3 separate regions of the Homo sapiens genome follow, and regions 2 and 3 are each linked to region 1. Evidence: fine-mapped expression QTL. A gene starts in region 1. Each other region holds a variant in brackets. All regions are shown on one strand. Distances are from middle to middle. Region 1 holds the start of CEP78 (centrosomal protein 78). Region 2 overlaps CEP78 (centrosomal protein 78). Region 3 has its middle 25 kb from the start of CEP78.

The links.
Region 2: its variant is fine-mapped to the expression of CEP78 in whole blood (TOPMed, PIP above 0.99).
Region 3: its variant is fine-mapped to the expression of CEP78 in memory regulatory T cells (Schmiedel 2018, PIP 0.91).

What each region holds. Positions count from the first base shown.
Region 1 is chr9:78,232,981-78,241,168 of GRCh38, reverse strand. CEP78 (centrosomal protein 78) reads right to left here and starts at 5,094. Exons shown (of 17, transcript NM_001330691.3): 1 at 4,566-5,094; 2 at 974-1,146; 3 at 805-877. The coding sequence starts at 4,818. RefSeq lists a silencer at 4,701-5,070 and an enhancer at 4,696-5,365.
Region 2 is chr9:78,262,598-78,270,785 of GRCh38, reverse strand. CEP78 (centrosomal protein 78) reads right to left here. Exons shown (of 17, transcript NM_001330691.3): 12 at 7,802-7,879; 13 at 6,470-6,636; 14 at 5,243-5,414; 15 at 4,880-4,927; 16 at 4,083-4,344. Among named protein-coding and RNA genes, the nearest start is that of PSAT1, 30 kb to the left of the region's middle. The variant G/A (reference allele first, on the strand shown) is at 3,931.
Region 3 is chr9:78,207,477-78,215,664 of GRCh38, reverse strand. No RefSeq gene overlaps it. Among named protein-coding and RNA genes, the nearest start is that of CEP78, 25 kb to the left of the region's middle. RefSeq lists an enhancer at 4,349-4,668. The variant T/G (reference allele first, on the strand shown) is at 4,400.

The sequences.
Region 1 (8,188 bases):
ACACAAGACTTCAGGATCCCAACGAACAGTCACCTTCTGTGACTATTTCCATGATCCCAACCCTTTCCCCCCAAGTCTGTCAGCCTTTTATATGCTCCTATACAGCACTTTGCTTATATTTCCTATTTTGGAACATACCACAGTGCATTAAAATTGATTGTATATATGTTTTAATTATTTAAAGTAATGATGATTTTTTTTTTTTTGAGACGGAGTCTTGCTCTATCGCCCAGGCTAGAGTGCAGTGGTGTGATCTTGGCTCACTGCAACCTCTGCCTCCCAGGTTCACACCATTCTCCTGCCTCAGCCTCCTGAGTGGCTGGGACTATAGGCACCCGCCACCATGCCTGGTGAGTTTTTTTGTATTTTTTTAGTAGAGATGGGGTTTCACCATGTTAGCCAGGACAGTCTCAATCTCCTGACCTCATGATCCGCCCACGTCGGCCTCCCAAATTGCTGGGATCACAGGCGTGAGCCACCACGCCCGGCCTCTTTACATTTTGCTATTTCCTTCCCATAAATATTTCTTGAAGAAAAACTCTAAAAGATGAACAAACACAAAAAACAGAGAATACCAGATGGTATATATTTGTGTGGTCTGTGGTTTAACACAAACTTAAGTAAAGTTAGTTCAGATTACATTCAGCATGCCAAGCTTTCATGGTAGACTTGAGACTGGACCAAGGTTTGAACAAGCATATGAGGCAGTAGTAAGAAAAAAGGTACAGACAGGAATTAACATGGCATGTAGGGAAACATGAAACCAGCCTGATAGGACAAGAGTTAAATGAGATTTAAACTCACTTTCTAAACCTCCATCTCCAATTGGACAATTTGCAAGAGACAGGTGCACCAAAGAAGCCGATTTATTCAATCCCTTTAATGAGGGGGAAAAGTTAAAAATGTTATTGAGGTTTTTTTTCCTCTAAAAGCAACTATCAAATGTCTACAAGCCAAATGAGACAAAGCTTACCTTTGCTAGAATAGTTAAATCCCTCTCTCTCAGAATTAGTCCATTTAGCTCCAGGTTCTTTAGCACACTTGATATACTTAAACAGCCTTTAAGAGCTTTACACAACTGGAAGGTCACATCTTTGTATCTTATCGCAGGAACACGACTTCTGCAAAATTTATTCATGTCAGAACCTAAAACAAAGATAAAAGAAAGTTAGTGACTTCAATCATACAATGTATCATTCAAAAACATCTGCTCTGTGCTAAGACATAGAAATGAGCCATGTCCTTTAAAGTCCTCTTAAGCACAGACACATGTAAACTCAAGCCACATGGGATATACCAAACTATGTACATAGAGGTTCTTATGGAAGCAAAGAAGTTGCACTGAAAGGATGGCTTCAAGATAATCCTGAAGCTGAATCTAGAAAGATGAGAATGACAACATGGGGTGAGAGTGGGTGATGCATTAACCAGAGGGAGCAGCGAGAGCAAAGGCATCTAAGCCTGACACCTGCCGGGCACTGGAAAACTGCAGGTGGATCCGACTAAAGCCCAGAGCCGTAGCCGGAAGAGTCAGAAATTTACAAAGAGGCAGGGAGAAGCAAGCCTAGGAGAGTTCACTTTTACCTCACAGGTGATGAGGATCAGGGCTACCACTGACACATTAAGGATACCCCTAGCAGGTTAGAAAAATGTGCCTCACTGTTGGAGTATCAAAGAGATAAAGGAAATGAGAAAAAGCTCCCCTTCCTCAAGACCAACTAACCCCAGGAGGCTTAACAGAACACAGCTGAGATTTCAGTGCCTCTGTGCAGAACACAAGCAACCAATACACACTGGTCCTGCGTGGGCATGCCACTTTAAGCATGTCTTTTCCTTTTTGAAAGATCACTTGAACCAAAGTAGGCAGATGAACTGAGAAAAACCAAGCTCAACGGCAGCAAAACTAGCTAGGAGCGTCTGCAATAGTCCAGGCAAAATGTAATTAAGGATGGACAAGCAATATGTAGGAGGTTAAAATCTACAACCTAGACCCACTAGATGCAAGAGATAAAGAAGGTTCAGTGAAGAATATCTGACGAGAATGGTCTGTAATACATTTTTCTTACATTCAGTGCAAAATATTAGGCAAGATCTAGTAGGCTAGCCTTGACTCTGAGGTCCCTCCCATCTTTAATTTATTTTGGTTCCTGGTTTTTTTATTTTTTGTAGGGGGAGGGTCATGGACAGGGTCTTGCTCTGTCACCCAGGCTGGAGTACAGTGGCAAAATCATGGCTCACTGCAGCCTCAACCTCCCGGGCTCAAGAGATCCACCAAGCCCAGCTAATATTTTTTACTTTTTGTAGAGACAGGAGTCTCACTATGTTGCCCAGGCCAGTCACAAACTCCTGGCCTCCCAAAGTGTTAGGATTACCAGTGTGAGCCACCGCACCTGGCCTGGTTCCTGATATTATTTTGGTTAACTAAAGTCCATTCAGAGGTACAGAACAGTTCCTGCACCTGAATGAGATGTAGAGAATAATCTGACTTATTTTCAGAAGCAGATGTGTTGAACTGTCCTTGCAGAAGAGATGGTGCTAACCCCAGAGCCTAGAAAAGGGCCGGGCACACGACAAGTGGTCAGGTTGTTTTTAAATACATCAATAATCATTTCCTCTCCCAGATCGCACACCCTCCCTCTTTCTCTCAGCTTATAAACATGTTCACGTCCATATCCACTTAAAAAACACCTTTCAGACCTACAATTATCTGGATCTTCTTTGTGGGTAATCTAGGTCCCTCCCATGCCTTCAAATACCTGTCCTCCCACAAAGCCTAAATCTTGGGCCCAGATCTGCCTAGCAGACACATTTGGATGCCCCACAGGCCCCTCTTAAAACATTAAAGACAAACTGAGATCCTCCTCCCACCCCCAATCTCATTCGAGTTAACTCGGCTGTGTCATGGAAAGACGCTGCTGTGTTTCACTTACAGACGCTGCTGTAAACTGTCACCCATACTTGCTGCCCCCCTCTTCTAACTAGTCACCACGCCCATCCATTCTCTTAGATATCTGAAATCCTACCCTTCTTTTTTTTTTTTTTTGAGACAGAGTTTTGCTCTTGTTGCCCAGGCTGGAGTGCAACGGTGCAATCTCAGCTCACTGCGACCTCCACCTTCTGGGTTCAAGCAACTCTCGTGCCTCAGCCTCCCAAGTAGCTGGGATTACAGGTGCCCGCCACCACGCCCGGCTAATTTTTTTTTTTTTTTTTTTTGTATTTTTAGTACAGATGGGGTTTCACCATGTTGGTGAGCCTGGTCTCGAACTCCTGACCTCAGGTGATCCACACCCCCCCGCCTTGGCCTCCCAAAGTGCTGGGATTACAGGCATAAGCCACGGTGCCCGGCCCCAGCCCTTCTTTTCTATACCTTAGTTTGGGCCATTAGATTACAATTCACCATCCTTCCAATTTTAATTTGTCTTCCATATGGAGGCTAGACTGAGCTCCTACGGAAATTCCATCTCATCATCCTACAGCGGTTTCCCAAAACCTTCAGGATAAACATCCAACTCTATGACAGGACAAACGAGGACCCTCCCTGTTTGGCCCCCACAAGGTTTCCAGCCTCAACTCTCTCTGCTCTTTCTCAAACCTAAATTCCAGTCCTGTAACTCAGCTTGCATACTCTCTCCTATTTCCAAAACTTTTGCACAAACTGTTCCTTCCTGTTACCTAGCTAGCGTCTATAGGAAGCTGCCTCCATTATGTAGAAAATGCTAAGTGCTCAAAGGAATAACAGCATTTTGTCATATATCATAGTTGACCTAACATATTTTCCGAATAATCAGAGAGTCTGGATCCCTAATTATACCACTATACATTTACAAATGGCTTGTATTTGTAAAGCACTTTACAAACTTCTTATATACACCTTAAAAAATGAAGACAGGCCGGGCGCGGTGGCTCATGCCTGTAATCCCAGCACTTTGGAAGGCCGAAGCGGGCGGATCACCTGAGGTCAGGAGTTCGAGACCAGCCTGGCTAACATGGTGAAACCCCATCTCTACTAAAAATACAAAAATTAGCCGGGCATGGTGGCGCGCGCCTGTAATCCCAGCTACTCGGGAGGTTGAGGCAGGAGAATCACTTGAACCCGGGAGGCGGAGGTTGCAGTGAGCCGAGATCTTGCCACTGCATTCCAGCCTGGGCGACAGAGTGAAACAGTGTCTCAAAAAAAAAAAAAAAAAAAAAAAAAAAAAGACAAAGGCTGACATGTATTAATTTCCTACCTGCTTAGTTCTCTATCAGGCAAATCAAAGTCATTCAATAAAATAGGTAACATCTGTCAAATGTTTAATGATGTCCCAAACTGTGCTAAGAGCTCTGCAGGCATCAGCAGCGCAGGGAATCCTTGCGAAGGCGCACATAACCTGGGTCTCGTTATTAAGCCCATGTTACGGATGAGCACACTGAAGCCCTAGAGACCTTAAGCCACTCACCTAGCTCGTGAGTGTCCAGGCCGCACACCCCTTCTATTGCACACATACCCCGACAATGGACACCACTCACCTAAAAACCCACTTCGCCGCACCGACTGAGGGGCCCTGGAGGCGGGAACTACAAACCTGTGTCCCCCAGCCAGGGCTGGAAGAAGCTCTTGATGGAGACCAAGGGCAGGTCTTTATTGATCTTGAGGGTGCTCAGCAGAGGCGCCCAGTCCACCCCGCGGAGGCGGTCGGCGTTGAAATCCAGCACGCCCTCCCGGAGACAGGCGCGCACGGCGGGCAGCGGCACCGAGTTCTGCAGCGCGCACAGGTACTCGTAGTGGGAGAAGAAGTCCGCCGCGCTGTCGCGGCGCAGCTTCACGGAGTCGATCATGGCCCGAGGGCGGCCTCGGGGGATGCCCGCCGCGGAGACGCCGCCCGCGCCCACCCAAGAACGCTGAGTCGCAACCCGGCCGCTCCGGCACCCACGGCCAGGCGATAGCGGCAGCCCCGCACCGGGCTCAGGAGCGGTGATTCGGTCGGAAGACGCAAGGCCAGAGCCCCAAGCTAGGCCGGCCCCTCAACGCCCCACTCCCGCGCTGCCTCCCGCCCTGCGGCCCAAGCAGTTGGCGCCCGCCTCATAGTCCTCTGAGGCGCCGGGATTCAAGCCGGTGGGCGGTGCCGTGGAACGGTGCGCCAAGACGTCAACGTGCTCGCTGTGCGTCGGCACGCAGGTCCCGCCTCCTGAGGACGGGTGAGTTCGCTGCTACCTGAGATAGTGGTCGGGAGAGTTTGAGGGTTTGCGAAAGAGTTTACTGATCGATCCGAATAAAAGTGAAATGTGTGGTCGGGCGCGGTGGCCCACGCCTGTAATCCCAGCACTGTGTGAGGCGGGGGCGAGCGGATCACCTGGGGTCAGGAGTTCGAGACCAGCCTGGCCAACATGGCGAAACCCCGTCTCAATTAAAAATACAAACATTAGCCGGGCATGGTGGCGGGCGCCTGTAATCCCAGCTACTCGCCTGTAATCCCAGCTGAGGAAGGAAAATCGCTAGAACCCGGGAGGCGGAGGCTGCAGTGAGCCGAGATCTTGCCATTGCACTCCAGCCTGGGCGACAAGAGCGAAACTCCGTCTCAAAAAAAGAAAGAAAATAAAAAGTGAAATGTGGATGTAACAACGCACTTTTAAAAAAAGTCTAAACATCTGAGGAATGTGTCTGTGCTTGCAGTGTCCAGCCAGCACAGAGACTGCACTCAAGGGATGTGGGAACGGCTGATTGAACGTGAACTGCGGTCATTAAATCTTTTATGTCTGTGTTAATATCTACAAATAAGCCTTAATTTCTGTAGTTTCTGCATATCTCACACGGTTCCTGGCAAATTGAAGAGTGTTTCATGAATTCAGGACTTTATTGTGTTTGCTGTGAATCAGTTTGTTTTGTACTGACGATGATGTTGGCTAACTCCCTTGTAACTAGTACTTATTTGAAATAATGTCCTCGGGATTATTTTAAGCAATGTTTAAGTATGAAATCATTTCATTCTCCTAACATCTCAAGGAATATACTATTATATTCTACTTTACAAAAGGGGAAACTGAGGAACGGGGAAGTTAAGTGGAAGCTAAGTGGAAGAATCCAGATAATTGACCTCTCCTTCTATTGGTATGCAATTGCTAGAGCAATGATAGTCCTCCGGTAGAGCCTTAGACATTGTGTTTATTGCATTCCTGTTCCACCCACTGCATTCCGGATACTCCAACTTACTTCCAACACACATATGCAGGCGTCTCTAAAATTCCGGAGATATGGTCACCAATTATTTTTATGTGCGACATGCTCAAATCTTAATATAGTAAACGCTTGTATATTCATAAACCAGCTTAATAAATGAAACATTACCATTCCTGTTGAAGAGCTTTGTGTAACCACCTTCCCAATCACGACTACTCTCTGACTCTGAGATAACTGCTCTTCTGAACTTGGTATTCATCGTTGCAATGTATGTCTTTATATTTCTGCTACATATGTAAGTAAGCAGTATATAACATTCTATATTTTCTTTTCCTACTTTACTTATCGTTACCTTTACTAGGTCCATCCGTGTTGACATATAGAGATATTCATTTATTTTCCCTGTTGTTATATGGGAGTTCCATGTAGAAACATACAGTAATGTGTCTGTTTTTCTGTTGATGGTAATTTAAATTGTTTCCAACTTTACGATTTCTTTGTTGCTCTATCCATTTTCTTTCTAGTCTCCAGCATCAATTAATGTAGTGTCCATTACCTTTTTAAAGCTCCCTCCTCCCTGTTTCCCATGAAGCCACCTGATTTCTTTTTCTTTACCTCTCGAATTTCTTCTTCTCAGTCTCATTCTTTGGCTTCTCTTGCATATCCACTCTAAATATTGCTGTTCGTCAGGTTTCTACCCTCAGCTTTCACCCCTTCTGACATTTTACAGTTTCTCTGGGTGTTCTTGTCTTCTGCTCAGCCTTAACTTCCCCACTCTAGGCAGATTACTTCTAACACAGATAGATCTCTTCATCCATTAAATTGCCCCCTAGAAAGCCAAGATTTCTCACTGCCCTCAGTGTCAGATCTATGTCACGTAGCTTGACATACAAGCTCCTTCATAATTTGACTATCTCTGTTGTCTCTCTCCTTGCTACATTCTTCCTGGCATGTCTTCTCTAGATACACAGAACTGCTTGAACTTTCTGATGTCCTATTGTTGCTGTCTGGGTCTTTTCATAGGCTGCTCCTTTATTTAGTCGGCTAACTTCCATTCTTTTCCCAGCCTTGGTTTGGGGCACCTTCCCTAGAAAGCCTGTTTCTCTCTAACCCTCATCTCTCCTCCCTTGCTTGTTTAGCACCTCACTGCTGTGCTCCCTGACATCCCTGTAGCATAACACTTAGAACATCCAATGATAAACATCTTTTTAGATGGTTTTCCTTCCAGAGTCTGAAAGCCCTTTGAAGGCAAGAACCATGTCTCATTCATGCTTACATTCCCTATGCCTAGCACAGTGTTAGCACAGAGAAAGTGCTAACTAATGACTAATTGTAGGAACATTCTTCCCTATTATCCCCGCAAGCTATTGCCAGCACCCTGTAGCCACTGCCTATGAATGCAGCTCAGAGAAGTCTTCCTCATATTAATAATCATTTAACATATTCATTTAAAATTTATGTTTCCTGTGCTTACTTATTTTTAGTGTGGCAAGATTTCTTTCAAGGCTTGCCTGATAATCTCTTCTCTGCTTCAGTTAAATTATGACTTAATAGTTGCTTCAAAAAAAGAATGGCTCCAGTTCTCCTTTCAGCATCTGGTGGGTTCACCCACACACTTCCCTGAACACTGAATGAAAACTGTCTCTCTGTGGCACCTCTGGGATCCTCTGACAAACCAGGCTCACACCTGGCCCAAGACAAAATGCCTTGGCTTCATTGCAGGTGCATGACTTGGGAGGGACGTTCTACTGGGTGGTATAAGAGATGAGCTCTCCTCCTTCAGGGGATCTGGTGAGTGAGTGTTTGAGTAGAATACAGGTAAATGGTATCATTTAAGCACTTGTTCACTGTACTCTACTCCCAGTCAATCCAGACTGTTATACCCCGACTTCCTAGCCCACTTACCTTTCCATAGAACCACAATGCCATATCATCTGCTTATCTCTAACATTCATCCTCTCTGTACTTGCTTCCAGAGCAGTGAGGTTTGATGGATCCAGGCACAGAGCAATGTCAACCTGGCCAACAACA
Region 2 (8,188 bases), 30 kb before region 1:
TTATAATCAGAATTTTTCAAAAAACCAATCATCTCCTATCATGCCGATCCTCTGAAAATCAAGTGTTACTGTCTTGAGATTAGAGATTCTGTAAATACCCATTTGAAATTGGACGAACTCATTATTGGATATAGAACTGGATGGGCAAGCAAGAGTGATGATTTTTGACCACTAGTAATTATGTGTGAATTTAAGACAGGATGACAAGCTCTTTGCTACAGTATCACATCTGAATGTTTTCTGAAAAGGGTCCTGTTTGCATACAGATTGTATATGTGCTGGTAAGTACTCAGTAAAGGTGCATAGTAATTTCTCAGTAAAGGAACACACTTGTACCTTTCTCTAAACCAAATGAAAATACCATATTTCAAAATTAAATGATATTATTTCAGGTATATTGAAAGTTTAACAATTACTTGCAGGGCTAAAATTGTATATATTAAGCAGCAAAATATCCACATTTATAACTCTTAATGTTACGGTTTTAAATGTTTGATAAAATATATGTAAAATATGGAAGAATTTTAAAACTATAATTATGTGATTGTGTGTAGGTCTTGTAAAAATCCATGGTTAAAGAAAACTGGGGTTATCAGGTATAAACTCATTTAACTTCTAACTCTTCCCATTTTTGTCTCTGTCCACACTTCCCAGGATCCCCCAACTCTACAATAACTTTTACATATTTTACAATGTGACCCCATCCCTGATTTTATTTTCTAATCCATATTTCTTTCCCAGATTCTCTAAGTTACTTATCTAACCATTTTGCACTACATGTATGGGAGTCATCTCAAGTTCATCAAGAATTCAAATATGTACATCCCCATCTGTTCAGATCTGTTTCTTTTAGTCTTAAGAACATTAAAGTATCTCATGTCCCTGCTTGTCTGAGATCCTGCTGCATAAATGAGCCTCTCCTTCTTTACTTGGTTCTTTCCTTTCACCTTACAAACATTTAAGTCCTTAGTCTAAAAAATTCCTCTTCAGCTAACTCCATTTCCTCTTATCATCCAAACTCCTTCAAAGAGTAGTCCTATACCTAGTTTTCATTGCCCCCTCAGGGCATTCCTGCCCCTCAATTTACTGCAATCTGGCATTTTCATCAACCAATTCAGTGAATTGCTCTCATTAAGGTCACCTGGGACCTAACTGTCAAAATCCCGTGGACACTTATTCTCTGCCATGTGACACTGTATTCTACTTCTTCCTTCTTGACACTCTTATCACTTGTCTCTCTCAGAATCCTTTCTTTGCTTATCACTTAAACCTTGACAGTCCCCACAATTCTGTGTTCTCATCAACTTTATGATTTTAACTACTGCTTATATGTGCTGATGACTTTCAAATTCTTTATTTCCATGTCTTCATATGTACATCCAATCATCTACCAGTCATTTCCTCCTGAAATCTGCAGGTGATGTGTTCAACCTGCTCCAAACTAAACTCTTCTTTCCAAAGCAGTTCTTTATCCCATATTCTCAGCCTCAATGATACCACCACCCAACCTTAGTCACAGAAACACAAGTCCACCCACTGCCTCTTTTTTCCTTACTTCCCATAACCAAATCTTATTTAATTGCCAAAATAAGATTAAAACTTACTCCCTCCCTTCATCTATACCTTATTTTAGATCCCTTTCTCTTCTTGCTAAGTCGTAAGTTACTAAATTGGCATTTCGTGGCACCAGTTGTTAGGCACTCCTATTAAAAAAGGATTCTATAAACAAGTATATTTGAGAAGGGCTGCATACCATATGCCTGTCTTGAAGACTCAGAATGAACATTAGCCTCTAGCACCCTTGAGAAGTACTACTGTAAAGAAACCTGCGGCCAGGCATGGTAGCTCACGCCTGTAATCCCAGCACTTTGGGAGGCCAAGGTGGGTGGATCACGAGGTCAGGAGATCAAGATCATCCTGGCTAACACGGTGAAACCCCGTCTCTACGAAAAATACAAAAAATTAGCAGGGCATGGTGGCGGGCACCTCTAGTCCCAGCTACTGGGGAGGCTGAGGCGGAGCTTGCAGTGAGCCGAGATCGCACCACTGCACTCCAGCCTGGGCGACAGAGCAAGACTCCATCTCAAAAAAAAAAAAAAAAAAAAGAAAAGAAACCTGCTTAATTCTATTTATGCGAGGGTCTCCTTTATGTTTGTCTAAAAATTATTTCAGTAGGAGAGGAATTGGGAGGATAAGTCCCATTTAAAAATCAAAGACAAATGCTCTTCAGAAAAGTGTGGAAAACTGATCTCCACACTTCTTTAATGTATCAGCCTAAAGCTAATGATCTAAAATGCAAGCCTGAGCATATAACTTCCATTCTTTACTAGCTCATTATTTACTGAAGAAAAAGAACCAGCTCCATGCAACGTGGATTATAAGACTCGATCTTGTTCCCCTAGCTGCCTCCTTGAGCGACATCTGCTAGTGCCTGATGACATTTCGGTAACTCTCAACTACTTGTGTTTGTGGTTCCTCAAACGCACATACTCACACTCACGGCTCTGTACTTCTGCTCATGCTATTCCCTCTGCCCTGAGTATCCTTCCCCTTCACCTTCTTATTCACCAGCCTGTAACTCATTACTTTTAAGACTTAGCTTAGAAATTAACATGACCTTTGGTCTCTTTAGTTGGCCTTTCTTGGCCCCACTGCTCTCCTCCTTTTTCCCCACACTGACTAAACTCCCTCAGCATTTCCACCATAGAATGTAATATACGGTATTACGACATCTGCTTGTGTATCTCCCCTTCACTCAACTGTTAAAAAGCCAAGATTACATCTTGTTCATTGTTTCATTCCCATAAGTCAATCCATGATTAATGAACTCAGTAGTATTGTAGTAGCCCTTTTGATAACAATCAGGCAAGACCATCCAGAAGAAATCTGACGCTCCAGCTTTTCTCTCATCTCATCTCTCAAGTCATAGTCTGGTTGTAGGAAAGGACTTATCTATGCATATTTTACCAGGGAGGGGTATTTACTCCAAAGATTTATATCCATACTCTTACTAACTCTGCCTTTGAAAAATTCAACCCAGGTGTGCTTTCTGATAGCCCCACTCTTTTCTACTTATAGTGTTCATTGGCTTTTTTCTCAGAATCTTCCTTAAGTGGTTCCTCTCTTAACAGTGAAACAGGATAGCTCATTAAAGTATGGGTTCTGGTTGAGATCCCAGCCCTACCACCTATTTACAGCCGTGCAACTTTGGGCAATTCACATAATCTGTCTCCTTAGACACCTCATCTATAAAATGGACATAATAATATTAATAGTTCCCTATCTTATAGGGTTGCTATAATCCATGAACATGCTTAAGCATCTAGACATGTTTGCTGCTCTGGTTATATATTAGAATATGTCAATGGCTTCTGGCCATGTGATATATATTTATTTCCAAATTTAACCAAATGGTAAAATTATTCCATTTATTCACTCCCATCCCTTTCTATTCATCGTACTCTGCTTTGTTGTTCTGTTTTCTCCCTCCACAGAATGTTAGTTCCTTGAGATTAAAGGCTTTGTTTTGTTCACTGCTGAAAGCCATAGCACCCAGAATGATATTATACATACTAGCCCCTCAGTAAACAATTGCTGAATCAATGTTGTAAACTATCAAAGGGAAAAACAGACCAAAAATTTCACTATAATAAAAAGTATAGAGAAATCTTCCTTTAGTGGCTTCCAATCCTATATTTTAAGACACCATATGCCATAATAAAAACATAAGAAAATTTATTAAAATTTAAAGGTAAAAACATAGTTTCAAAAGATTTAGTCATATGAAAGGTGTGATAGAGAATGGATGCTTTCTTGAAATTCAAAATCACATCCAAGAGTATCACTTTCAGAATGTTCTAGTGGACTGGATTTACTTTTATTTGTCTTGGATGAAACAGTCACTATTCTATTTTCTTTCTTGACAGAAAC[G/A]TATTTTTTCAAAGACCTACTTTTAATTGGTTCATTAACCAAAGAACTAGTTTCCCTAGTTTCTTTGCTTTTCTGGTTTTCAGGACAGTCAGATCAGGAATGCAGGTCCTTTCCAGGGTGTTGCTTATCAGAGTGTTTTTTGGTATATTCACCTGTTTTGGTCTTTTTCTCTGAAGAAGATCTGCTATTTCTGGACAACTCCTCTTCTTTTCTTTGACTTCCAGTTCCAGAAGTCGCATCTGGTGAAGGAGAACACATTCTAGCAATGAATCCTTCAAAAGACTCCTGCCGCTGCTCAGTAGCTGGGACTCCTAGGTTGTTGCTGGAAGTTCCTAAGCCCTCTGGAGTAGAAACTGGGACAGGAAAGGAGTCGAGAGGCAAAGGAATTCTAGCATCACCTGTAATTTTCTGAAACTAGAAGGAAAAACAAAACAAAAATTTAGTGACAAACAAAGCCATCCATTTAAAAATCGAGTTCAAAACGTCAATGTTATTCTGTGATCTTAGAAGATTTCCAGGTCATTTTTGCCCTAATTATATCTTGCCAAGTGATTGCCAACTTAACTTAGCTATAGCCAGGAGTAGGTCCAGCACATTTTCAGACTTCTGTGTTTTCTGTAATTATTACTAATTTATGTCTCCCTCATTAAAAAAAAAAGAACCTTATTCTATAAGAAAATTAGTATCTTTCCTATCCTCTATGCACATGTAAGCAGTATCCAATTTATAAGTAGACTGAGTTTTCAAGTCGTCAGTTGCCAAGACCAGTCTGAGACTGGCTGAGATGGCAGATGGGGGCTCCAAGTAAGGCCAGAGGAAAAGCAGCAGGGGACTCCTGTGGCAGACAGGTTTGCCCCTCCCATTCCCATAACTAGATGATGCCTATAATATACTGCCTGTTATATATGAATTACTTATTCTGAAAAATTATCTATATCAGTACTTGTACCTTCATTAGTGTTCCTTCATTGTAAGCTGACTGCATACAAATAGAAACCTAGATGGAATATGAATAGAATAGACATTTATAAAATTGAAAATTGAAAATCATTTCTCTAATCTTTCATTTCTTCACTGAGGATAGTCTACTTTAAATCATAAAGTTTCAAAAGAACTTTCTTATTTTTTATTTACAACAATACAATATAAGGAAATGGGCACAAACTTACTAATCTCAGTCTTGGAAAGGACCCCAAAGATGCTTCTGGTCCCTGAGCATGTGCACAGATCATTATTCTTTTCTCTCTGACTTAGTAATTCCCTTTTTTGCTAATCACTTGTAGAATCACTAAGTTCTGTTCTATTCATTTACCTGGATATTTTGCATTTGCCCTAGGGCATTCTGCTTCGGTTCTGGTTTTTCATCTTCAAGCGCCTTCTTTTCTTCTTTAGGTGGATTACTAACAGTAGAAGTCATCTGGGGATGACCTAGTAATTGAAAATCTGACTGATCTATCCCAGCCATTGTGGCAAGCTGCCCAAGCCTGGTCGAGAGAAGAAAAGGAGGAAAAGGCAAGGATTACTAGAAGCACATAAGAACAGCTTACATTTCCCCAAACCTACAATCATTAAATACTTCTAAAATCTTAAAACCCATTATCCTACTCCAGACTACACCCCCATCCCTCCCAATTTCTCAGACCTTCCCACATTTATTCTCTGAGACAAACCATATCATATCATCCAATCCTTTAAGCACTGTCTCTTCCCCCAACAATGTATTAGATACCTCTTGACTTCATTTCCTTACTTATTCCGTATTTTATATACTGTCTCAGTAGAAGCTGCAATTTCTACCACACACCTACTGCCTCTCACCTTCATCCCCACACATCTATACCACCTTTCCTCCAGTCCTCAAGAATATGTTTGTTCCTTTCCTCACCAAACCGTTCACCTACAAAACATAACTCTATCAATTATCTATCTCCAACTCTTTCTTTCAGTATATTCGTTCAGCAAAATCATTCTTGGTTGAGGACCACTGATCCATATCTATATCTATATCTACCCTGCAGATTAATAACAATTTTAATATCTCAAACTTAATTTTAATTCAAACTTATTTAACAAGCAAAGTGAATAAAAGAAAAATTCCTATACATTCCTGAATACTTTCAATTAAAACTACCTTCAATTTGGTCTTTAACAAGAATCACAGCTACCAATTACTCTATCTACAAGTTACTCTTTTTTTTTTTTTTTTTTTTAAGAGATGGGCTCTTGCTATGTTGCTCAGGCTAACCTTGAATTTCTGGGCTCAAGTGATCCTCCTGCCTCAGCCTCCCAAGTAGCTGGGATTACAGGTGCAAACCACCAAGCCAGATAAGTTTACTCTTTCATATTGGGCCCTCAACCAAGGCAGGTTTGTCATTTTGCATTTCTTTTAAAATTAATTCCACATTTAAAAAATCAAGTGTATTACTTATAATTACACAGTAAATATGACTTCAGAAAGCTATAAAAATTGCTCAAGTTCCTCAGCAAAACACCATTAAAGTCATGGAGGGACGAATGTCATAGGGAGAAAGTAACTAACCCAGCATCTTTAAGGAGATCCAAGAAAGCATGAAACTTCTGAAAAGAATTCTCAATGCTGCCCAAAACACCTTCATCATCCAGGATCATATTTGTCAATGACTGTGCATGAAGGGCTTCAGACAAAGAGAAATTTATATTTCTTAACTGGGCATTTTCATGTTCCAGCTATAAAAGAAGATTGAAAATGTGTGACATGATTTTCTCTCATTATCACCAAAATAGTTTTTATGAAACTAAAATAAAACATTTTAAAAATGTAATTAATTTGCAGTTAATCTAACTCTCTACCAGTAAAGACAGACCATATTAAATAACAATCAAAACCTGGAGATAACTGACAAAACCTCCTACATAAATAATATAAATAGTATTTCATTAATTATCTTTCAAAAAGATCACATTTCTAACAGCTTAAATACATACCTGGATCATTCTATATTTAAAAATTAGCTGTTTAAGGTTTCCCTTAAATTAGACAATGAAATAAAGAGTAAGCATTTTACAATTTGGCTGTTAAGGACTAATTTTTGCCAGTAAAATACTTAATATATAAATTTAAAAGTCCTAAATCATACCCAATTTACTAACTGTACAATTACCAATATTGCCCCTTTGCTTCTTGAAAATATGTACTCTCCTGTACACCAAATCTATTTATCTAATACTACACATAAGTCTAACTCTAGTATTTCTCAGAAAGGCCACTGTGTTCACAAAGCACCTTTTGCCTTATACAATCAGGTGCTCAACCTTTATTGAATGATTAACTGTCTTTCAAACCAATGCATATACTTTCAAAAATTCCTCCTTAAACTTGCTTTGTAATAATAAATTATAGTTATGTAGAACTTTCTAGTTTATGCCCTGCTCTTATGCACATTCACCTAATTTAGTCCTCATGGTATAGATTTTTATCTTTCATTGCATTCTTACCGGTTTTCCATTATCTTTTACCTTATTTATTCATTTTCCTAATTCCCCTTCAGTAGATAGTCTCATCCCCATCTTTTACGCAATTGTATATACAGTATAAGCCTAATAAATGCATTCTTGAATTGATGCATCATGAACAGAAAATAAGCTCCAGTCATATAAAAACAGAGGAAAAGAAAACAAACTACAATTTTTACATTTTTAAAAAACATGCTTTTTGGAATACAGATCACACGGTCACCAAATATAAGTAAATACAAACATTAACATACTGTGACCATTTGCAATACACTATATTTTCTCATTTTAAAGTTTATAAAGTGTGTGTATGTATGACTTAAAGTTAAACCAAAACCAAAACAAAAAACTCTCAAAAGGTAAGAAAACTTTTATTTACCTCACTGACTCGTTTATCAACCTTAAGCCTTATCACTCTTTCTTCCTTTAACTGCTTTAGGCACTCCTCCAGTTTTTCCTAGTATTAAGTAATAAAGTAAATATTATAATTAATTCCCAATATGATCCCCAAAACTCTTCCAGCTGTTGAGCTCACCAAGTGTTTAGGGACAGAGCCAGAAGTGAACTCAGATATCAGGATTATAGCCTACTGCTTGTATAATATCATACCATGCTAGGGAAATTAATTACCAAAAACATCAGATTCGCACATTACAGATTTATTTCCACTCTTTCCAAAATAAATTTATGACAGCTCACCATAGAAGGCATACACATATATTTATTGAGTCAAATAAAAATTAAGGCTATGAAAAAGAAATTCTAT
Region 3 (8,188 bases), 26 kb after region 1:
GAATCTTTCTCCCAATAGATAATCACCATTGGAACCCAGCTACTATTTTGTGGGGAAGCCTAGAACATATAAAGAGGCCACATATAAAAGATCCAACTGACAGCCCCAGCGAAGGCCCCAGCCCACAGCTAGACATTTAAGGGAACGGGCCTTCAGATGATTCCAACCCCAGCCTTTGAGCTGTGCTAGCTGAAGCTCAGTAGAGCAGGGAGGAACCACCCCCACTCACCCCTGCCCAAAAATGCAGATTCGTGAGCAAAATATATGTAGTTGCTTTTTTAATCCACTAAATTTTAGAGTGGTTTGTTATGTAACATTCAATTCCCGGAACATTACCCAATGTCCACAGACCTACCTGAGACATTTGGAATCTCCTGTGGTAGGGTCACCTTTTGTCATGCGATCACGACCTGGTGATCTTGCTATGGGTTTCTTTTGAGTTCAACCATCCTTCTCTCTGGACATAGTATGAAGCAGTTTGGCTAGATACATAGGTGTTACCAGCTTCAGCCTGGCTTAAGAAAAGATGTAGCTAAGTACTGAAAGAATTTAACTACTTCTTTTGCTGGTAAGGTAGCTCTCCGGGCCTCTGGAGGACCAACCAGTGGCACAGAAGTGTAACTCTGACACTTACTAGTTGTGTGATCTGAGCCAAATTCCTCAAATTCTCCAAACTACATCCGTAAAATGGGCATTATGATACCCATCTCATTTATGTAAGCTTGTAGCTCAAGGTCTGGCTTATTTTAAGTGTTCAAGAAGTAATAGGTGACTGTTTTAATTGAAAGTTAAAATGTTCAAATTTTTTTTTCTCTTAATATGTAAAATAACCTCATTGATGGAGGTTGTATAAACTTGCAAAACACTTCCATACTTAGTAACCAACTGTAAGACTACGCTACTCTGGACTCTGGATTTTTCAGCATCAAGTAAGGGACAGTAAATATTTATAACAGCAACACAATCCTTGTTGCCACAGCTCACAAGGGCCTATTTATTAAAACAGGTGGCATTAAGCCAAGAGTGACTATTAAATTTGTAAGTTGAATTTTTTTGAATAGTGATAGCCCCCTTACTAAGCAAAAGAAGACAAAAAAAAAAGCCCTACTTCTAACACTTGGGAATTTCTAACTAAATAGTTTCTTTTTTGTGATGGCAAGATTTATCCCTTATATTAGAAACACACGTGAGACCGTGAGACCATGAATCCATGGTATGGGTTTTAAGACTGCAGAATTAGCTGGACTTAGGGAGCACTTAGTTGATCCTCAGATCTCAAGTGGGGGCCAAATTTAATGCTTCTGAGTAAGGTTATTTTTATACATGAGATTCTATGTACTATTTACTAGTAATTTTTTTCAGCTTTGTGCATGCATCAAAAACTCAGTCATTTTACAAATTGCAACATAAATAGCAATTCCATCCACACAGTTTTTGGCAGAAAGAAGTTTCTTTCCACAAAATCCACTCAGTTTTGCTTGTTTTATTCTCCTATTTGCCAGTATATACTAAGGAGAATCCATTCTTACTGATATTGCTGGCCTTTTTAAAAGCCTTCCCACTTGCCTCTTACAAACTGAGGCTCTACTGACAAATGGCTTTTTCTCCCTGCATTCTGTGGAAAGCTTACAAATGCTGAATGCTAAGTGGAAGGCAACCAAAACCCAAATTCACAAACGTGTGCACTTGAAAATGTGCAGTTGGAGTCAATCCTTTGTCTGGAGCCCAGAGGAAAATACTTGATTCTGTTACTAGGTGGCAATGTTCCTTTACCAAAAGGGTGGTTATTAGCGTCTGCTCTAAAACAGAAAGGAAAACGCTGCCTTCTTGACCCATCCTTAGCAACTTTTTAACCAGACTTCTTGGTTTAAGACCACAAAGAGACATCAGTAATGTCAGAAATTCCAAGGTTGGAGTGCACAAACGAAAACTTATTCCCCTGGTCACTGTACATTGCAAAACTCTATGATATAAAGCACATGGTTGCTTCCAATGACTGTAAAAATCCTCTCTAGGCTGGGACTAGAAGTATATTCCAGGCCTTAGTGAACAAGTGATATAATCTCACTTGTCCAATGATCAGTGGTATAGTATTAATTTTATTTATGAAAAAACAGCCCTTGCATTGAGGTTCTTTTTAAAAAAAGGAGTTTCTTCCATCCCATTATCAGTTAGGGTTACCAGATTTAGTAAATCAAAATACAGGACAGCTAGTTAAATTTGAATTGCAGATAAACAATGAATACACTTTTTAGTATAAGTATGATCCTTGCAATAATTTGCAACTACTGATACTAAAAAAATTATTTGTTATTTATCAAAAAAAGTTCTGAATGAGTGGGCCTGGTACCTACATTTTAAAAAATACGGTGTTTTCCGTACAGATAATTCTCAGATCACACTTTCAAATAGCAAGAGTCTGAAGCTGTGAGATCATGAATCTCCTTGAGAATCAAGTCTTTTCCCAGAAAACACTCATATAAACTCAATACTTTCACACAACTTCAGTGAAAGAACTGAAATTCAGAATTGGCTAGAGCCTACAAACCTCATGAACCCCAAGTTAAGCACTAGCCTTAGTAATCTCATGTGGTTTACTGAAAAGCTTGGCTCTTCCACAGAAGTGAGATGAGAACAGGCTCATTTTGAGCCCTCCCACTTGGCCTACTCTTTGTCCTTCCCAACACTTCTCAGCACAAGGAGAGCATTTTTTTTTTTTTTTTTTTTTTTTTTTTTTTTACTTTCCACAAGAAATAATCCATAATCCCCTGCAACAGTATGAGTTCCCTACTTAAGTGACATGCTTTTTCTTTAGTGCCTCCCAGTTACCTCTGTAAAAGGATTGTTTGGAAATAGGGTCTGCCTGAATGAAGCCTAGAGGCTGTAAACAAAATTCCTCTTCATCAAAGATGCAAGTAAACAATTCTGGGCCAAACTGAACCACAGAGAGGTCATCTTAAATGCCCATCAAGCCATAAAAGGGTAGCCAGGGGATTGAAATTTTACACCTGTGTAAGGCAGGGAAGTAATACTGAAGTTAAAATAAAATAGCAGGCTCATACACTTAAAGATGGTTATTAAGCAGAGGTTGTCACCTTATCTCTGTGAGAACTAGTCTTGCAGATGCCTTGAGAAGAAGGAGTCCCAGCGTGGGACTCTGAGGGCCTTGGTGTGCTGACCCTGTGGCAGGGCCATTGCCCACTACACACTAGCTTTGGGTGGGAGGTGTAGAAGTTGCAGTGAAGTCCCACACTCATGGAGCAGCTGTAGTGCTGAGAAAGTGCATTAGAAGGCATAGGTTGTGTTCAGAGATAAGGCACCCATGATACCCCTCTGAAGTCCCTTTAAGGTGCTCATCCTGCCACCTGTAAAGCATCTAAGGCACCCTGGCCCCAGGTCGGGGGATGGAACCACAGTAAGGCTGTGGTATTACTGTCCCTTGGAGCTGAAATAAGTGCCGGGTAAGATGGCACTGGGACTTGGTTGAGTCACTAAGGTAGAAGTCCCAAGGCCCTCCATTAAATTTCTCCCACCTGAAAGTCTGGGCCTCATGAAGGTAAAAACTGCTACACAGGGAAGGTGTCTCTGAAGCTGCTGGAGCTCCCTGTTGGGCTGGACCAGAGCCCTTCCGTAACCTCGGCACTCTTGCAAGAGAAGGCAACCCCACTGTATTATACTCTCATGGGCTGGAATAGGCCGGAGTCCCAGGCTTTAGCGCTTTGGGTTTATAGGGATAACCACTTCTCCAGAAGTACCATGGTTAATTTATTTCAATGACTCTATTGGCTAGCCTCCTACTGGCTCTCAACCTAGCCTCATGGACCTCTTTAATTCATAAAGGTAGGCTGGCATGGGGAGAGTATTGCTCCATTTTCCTTTGGAGATGGAAGTCTTAGTATATCTTAATTACCAGACAATGGAGTCTTCATTCCTTCTTTAGATTTGCCTAACCAAGAAAACCTCAGAGTAACATTCCAAGAGCAAAGATGAACATCTATCCTGAAAACAAATAAACAAACAAGCAAAAAAGCTGCTTTCGACTACAAAGCTACAGCAGGACACTTTCTCTGCAGTGAAATGACTGAGTCAAAGGATACGGGCATTTGAAAAGCCCTCTTTTGTGTAGCCACTATGTGGAATAAAGACAACTCATGTGATATAACTGTAAAACAATTTCTTATTTCCCAGTGCCCCTTTAACTGTTTCGTTCTTCCTCTCTCCTGATTGAAAACTCCTATAGTCCCACGCGATGATCAAAATTTTAATCTTCGTTCAAAGGTCAATCATCCTGCCTTTCCCACTGTGGTACTGTTTCAGGACAAGGTCGACTTCTCCATCCTACCCATAGCACTTTCCCTCCATCTGCCCATCAAGGCTATGATTAGGCCACCTGTAAAAG[T/G]CTGTCTTGGCTTCCTCAGGCTGGAACTGCAAGGTGGGAAAGGAAGTGAAAAGGGCGAGAAAGTTCTTATTTGATTGATGTTGTCAGTGGATGGCTTCTGCTTGCTGGAGCGTGAAGCTGTTTTTTTCTCTTATGTGCATTTTTTGTGGGTTATCATGAAAGCTGCCATTGTTGGGGGATGCTTCTCTTTCCGTTTCTTTGATGTGGGAAATGATGTCTCTTCTAGCTGGTCACTGGCAGCTCCTCTTGCGACTTCTCACCATCCAGTGACCCACAGCTAGCTTCCTTCTTCTGATGTTCTCTTAGTCTTCAGATAGCCCTCAGAAAGATTCTTGATGCTCCCAGACTGCCTGCCTCTCAAGAGTGGTACAAACCTCTTCCTCAGGAAATACACTTTCTTTGGCCACAGCCACCTCTCCTAGATCAGCTTCTAAATACTTCTATCTCACTGTGTTTACATTTCTTAGTGGGAATCAGACACAAGTATAGTCCCCTAAATCAAGCTTGTCCAACCTGTGGCCCATGGGCTGCATGCAGCCCAGGATAGCTTTGAATGCAGCTCAACACAAATTCATAAACTTTTTAAAACATTATGACATTTGCTTGCAAATTTTTTTTAAAGCTAATCAGCTGCTGTTAGTATATTTTTATGTATGGCCCAAGACAATTCTTTCAATTGTCTTTCAATTCTTTCTTTTGGTCCAGGGAAGCCAAAAGATTGGACACTGCTGCCTTAAACTGAATGTAGCACATCTTGAATTCTCTATGTGGGCTCCTTAAAACCGTTAAGTGGGAAACATCTTCTATTCCTCACCCTTGTTGAGGTATCTAGCACTCCAACATCTATCTCCAAAATCCTCCTCCCAGTTTCACCTTCAACCTCCATGTACTTCATCCTCTTTGTATTTTTAATGTGTGTGAGGGATGAGTTCTGTCATTGGTGTTCAGATACTTATTTTGAAAATTTGTATTTTGTTTTAGCAACTCACTTTGAAGTGCAATATATATTGTATCTTGATTCCTCAGTCAAAATCTTCAAGGAACAGCCAATTGCATAAGAAAGATTTGCTCTTGTTCTCACTCATAGGTGGGAATTGAACAATGAGAACACATGGACCCAGGAAGGGGAACATCACACACCGGGGACTGTTGTGGGGTAGGGGGAGGAGGGACAGATAGCATTAGGAGATATACCTAATGCTAAATGACGAGTTAATGGGTGCAGCACACCAACATGGCACATGTATACATATGTAACAAACCTGCACGTTGTGCACATGTACCCTAAAACTTAAAGTATAATAATAATAAAATTAAAAAAAAGAAAGATTTGCTCTTGTCACATAATCATAATTTCATATCAGGTATAAACCTGAAGGATTTGCAGGTGATATCATTGCAACTGCCATTTACTAGCCACCCGCAATATTCATTTACTCTTGAGATATTATTCATTGGTGGCCCTATGGAAACCAGATCCTCATTTGATTTCTCATTGATGTCGTCATTACTAAATCTTTGAAGGTATGGATCAGCTTTTCCACTTCTTCCATGAGCTTCTTGGGCTCATCCACAGAGGCATAAAAGTACTGAGAAAACTGGTTGATATGGTTACTATTTTGCTTACACCCTCAAAAAATTAAATACAATGTGTTTGTTAAAGCAAAAGTTGATTGATGACTTACGTATAATAAAAGCCATACACATTTATCACAAAAAGCCCAAATTGCAAAGAAAATTAGAAAGTGGAAAAAAGTAATGCGTGGTCCTACCACCCAAAGAGGTAATGAGATAGTCGTTTTACTTAATTGTCTTCCTTTTTTTCATAATTGTAATAATAATGTACTGATCCCTGGGTCCCGCCCCAAATATTCAGATTTATTTGGTATGGGGGCATGTTCTAGACTCAGTGTTTTTCAAAAGCTCCTTAGGTGATTGCGACATGCGGCAGTTTGAGAGCTACTGCTCTAGGCGCCTGCCATTGACTTGTTCTCCATGCTTTTACTGTATTCTTGGTTAATTAGACCATGCAGAATGGATCGTAGAACCCACTGAGAATCAACTGTAATCATAAGTGTGTGTCAGCATGAGAGGGAACAAGTCTTCTAATTACTAGTTCATACTGGATGGACATCTACATCTGGCCACTCATGATGAAGGATAATGATGGATGGGGATAAGTTGGTTTCCTTATCACCATGAGGATAGCCTCACTGCTTCGCCAATCCCCAACTCTCTCAAGGCTGGCATCAGAGACTAGTTAGCTTTCCATGTGGGAGGATTTACAGCGAGTGAAATCACTGTGGCAGTCTGACTCTCTAGTAATCACAAGTCATAGTTACAAGGGTTTTTTAAATCTAGTGGCAACTTTTAGGTTGCACTGAACTGTGAGAAAGGAATTGGAAGAGTCTTGGGGCTTATTTTATGAGAAGTCTCAAGGAACTTTTATGATTGGTTGCACCCATAAACAACTTCATAATCAAAATGACTTGCTCCATCATAGTTTCAGAGACCTTGGAGGGGAGGACAGAAATGGTCAGGACCCTTCTCAATGCTTTCTCTTCTCAGGAGTCCACATATCAGAAACAGATGTGTTAGCCCTCAGATTGATGGTGAGAAAACGTGTCAGGAGACTCAGAATGAAGGCTCACATGCTCACATCACATACTGGTTTTGCAGATAGCTTGTATTATAATTTACAACAAAATTATGGTAGTTAGCCCAGCTGCTAGATCTTGTTATTTATTAATAAAGCAGTACATGTTACATATTATTTTAATATTTTGTCAACTGTATTTCAATGTTACTGGTATAATCCTAGGTTTTTATAATGTGTTTACAAACATGAACAGGCTTTTGTTTCATATTATTTTGATAAGTGATGCATGTCATTTTCATTTTTAATTTAGAGGTGATTGTGGAATTGGGAGGAGAAAACTAGCAGAGATAACTAGGAAATTTTACATTGTTATAGCTTCTTTTTTTTAATTCTATACTTTATTTCCTGTGTTTCCAGTATACTTTTTATCTGATATTATGGCTTACTATGCTCATTTGTTGCCACATTTTAATTACCTTTCCCAGTGATTAATTATTTGCTTCCAGATAGTGGGCTGGTACGATTCCCGCTGGTTCTATTTTGGAACCAATGATAAGGTACATTAACGAGGCTCAGAGTTGCTCCCACGAGACTGTTTTCCTTTTCCCATTGATGTGGCCTCTTCTTTTCACAGTATTAGAAATTGTAACTCAGGCACAATGCTTATTAGCTTATTCTCTTATCCCCAGATCACAGATGGAGATGTGGTTTTTAAAATATCTCATATTAAAAGTTCCAAAATCAAGAGTAGGGTGATGTATCACCACCCCCAGGTTGATATTCTAGGAATAAATGTCAAGAATAGAGATAGAAATTACCTATTACAAGCGGCCTAATCATAAACATTCTCAGGGCTGTTTTTCTTGGGTAATGTGCTGCAACCCTGCTCCTGAATGATTTTCTCAGAAGTACATAAGCGAGAATGGCATCTTAGAGCTTTGTTCTACCAGATAGAAGAGAAAATGAAATTTATATTAGCACTAGTGAAAGTTAATATTCAAAAAAAAGTGAAATATGTTTATTTTTGTACATTTTAACACCTCCCCATCTAATGGAGAAAACTGTATTTCCACCATATGCAACATCAAATGCACCACCATACACATTCATCATGATGTATTGCCTCATTTTTGAGTCGTGTGTAATTTCCTTGCAATTGTCCTGGTATGATACAAGGTCAGCTCATTTCC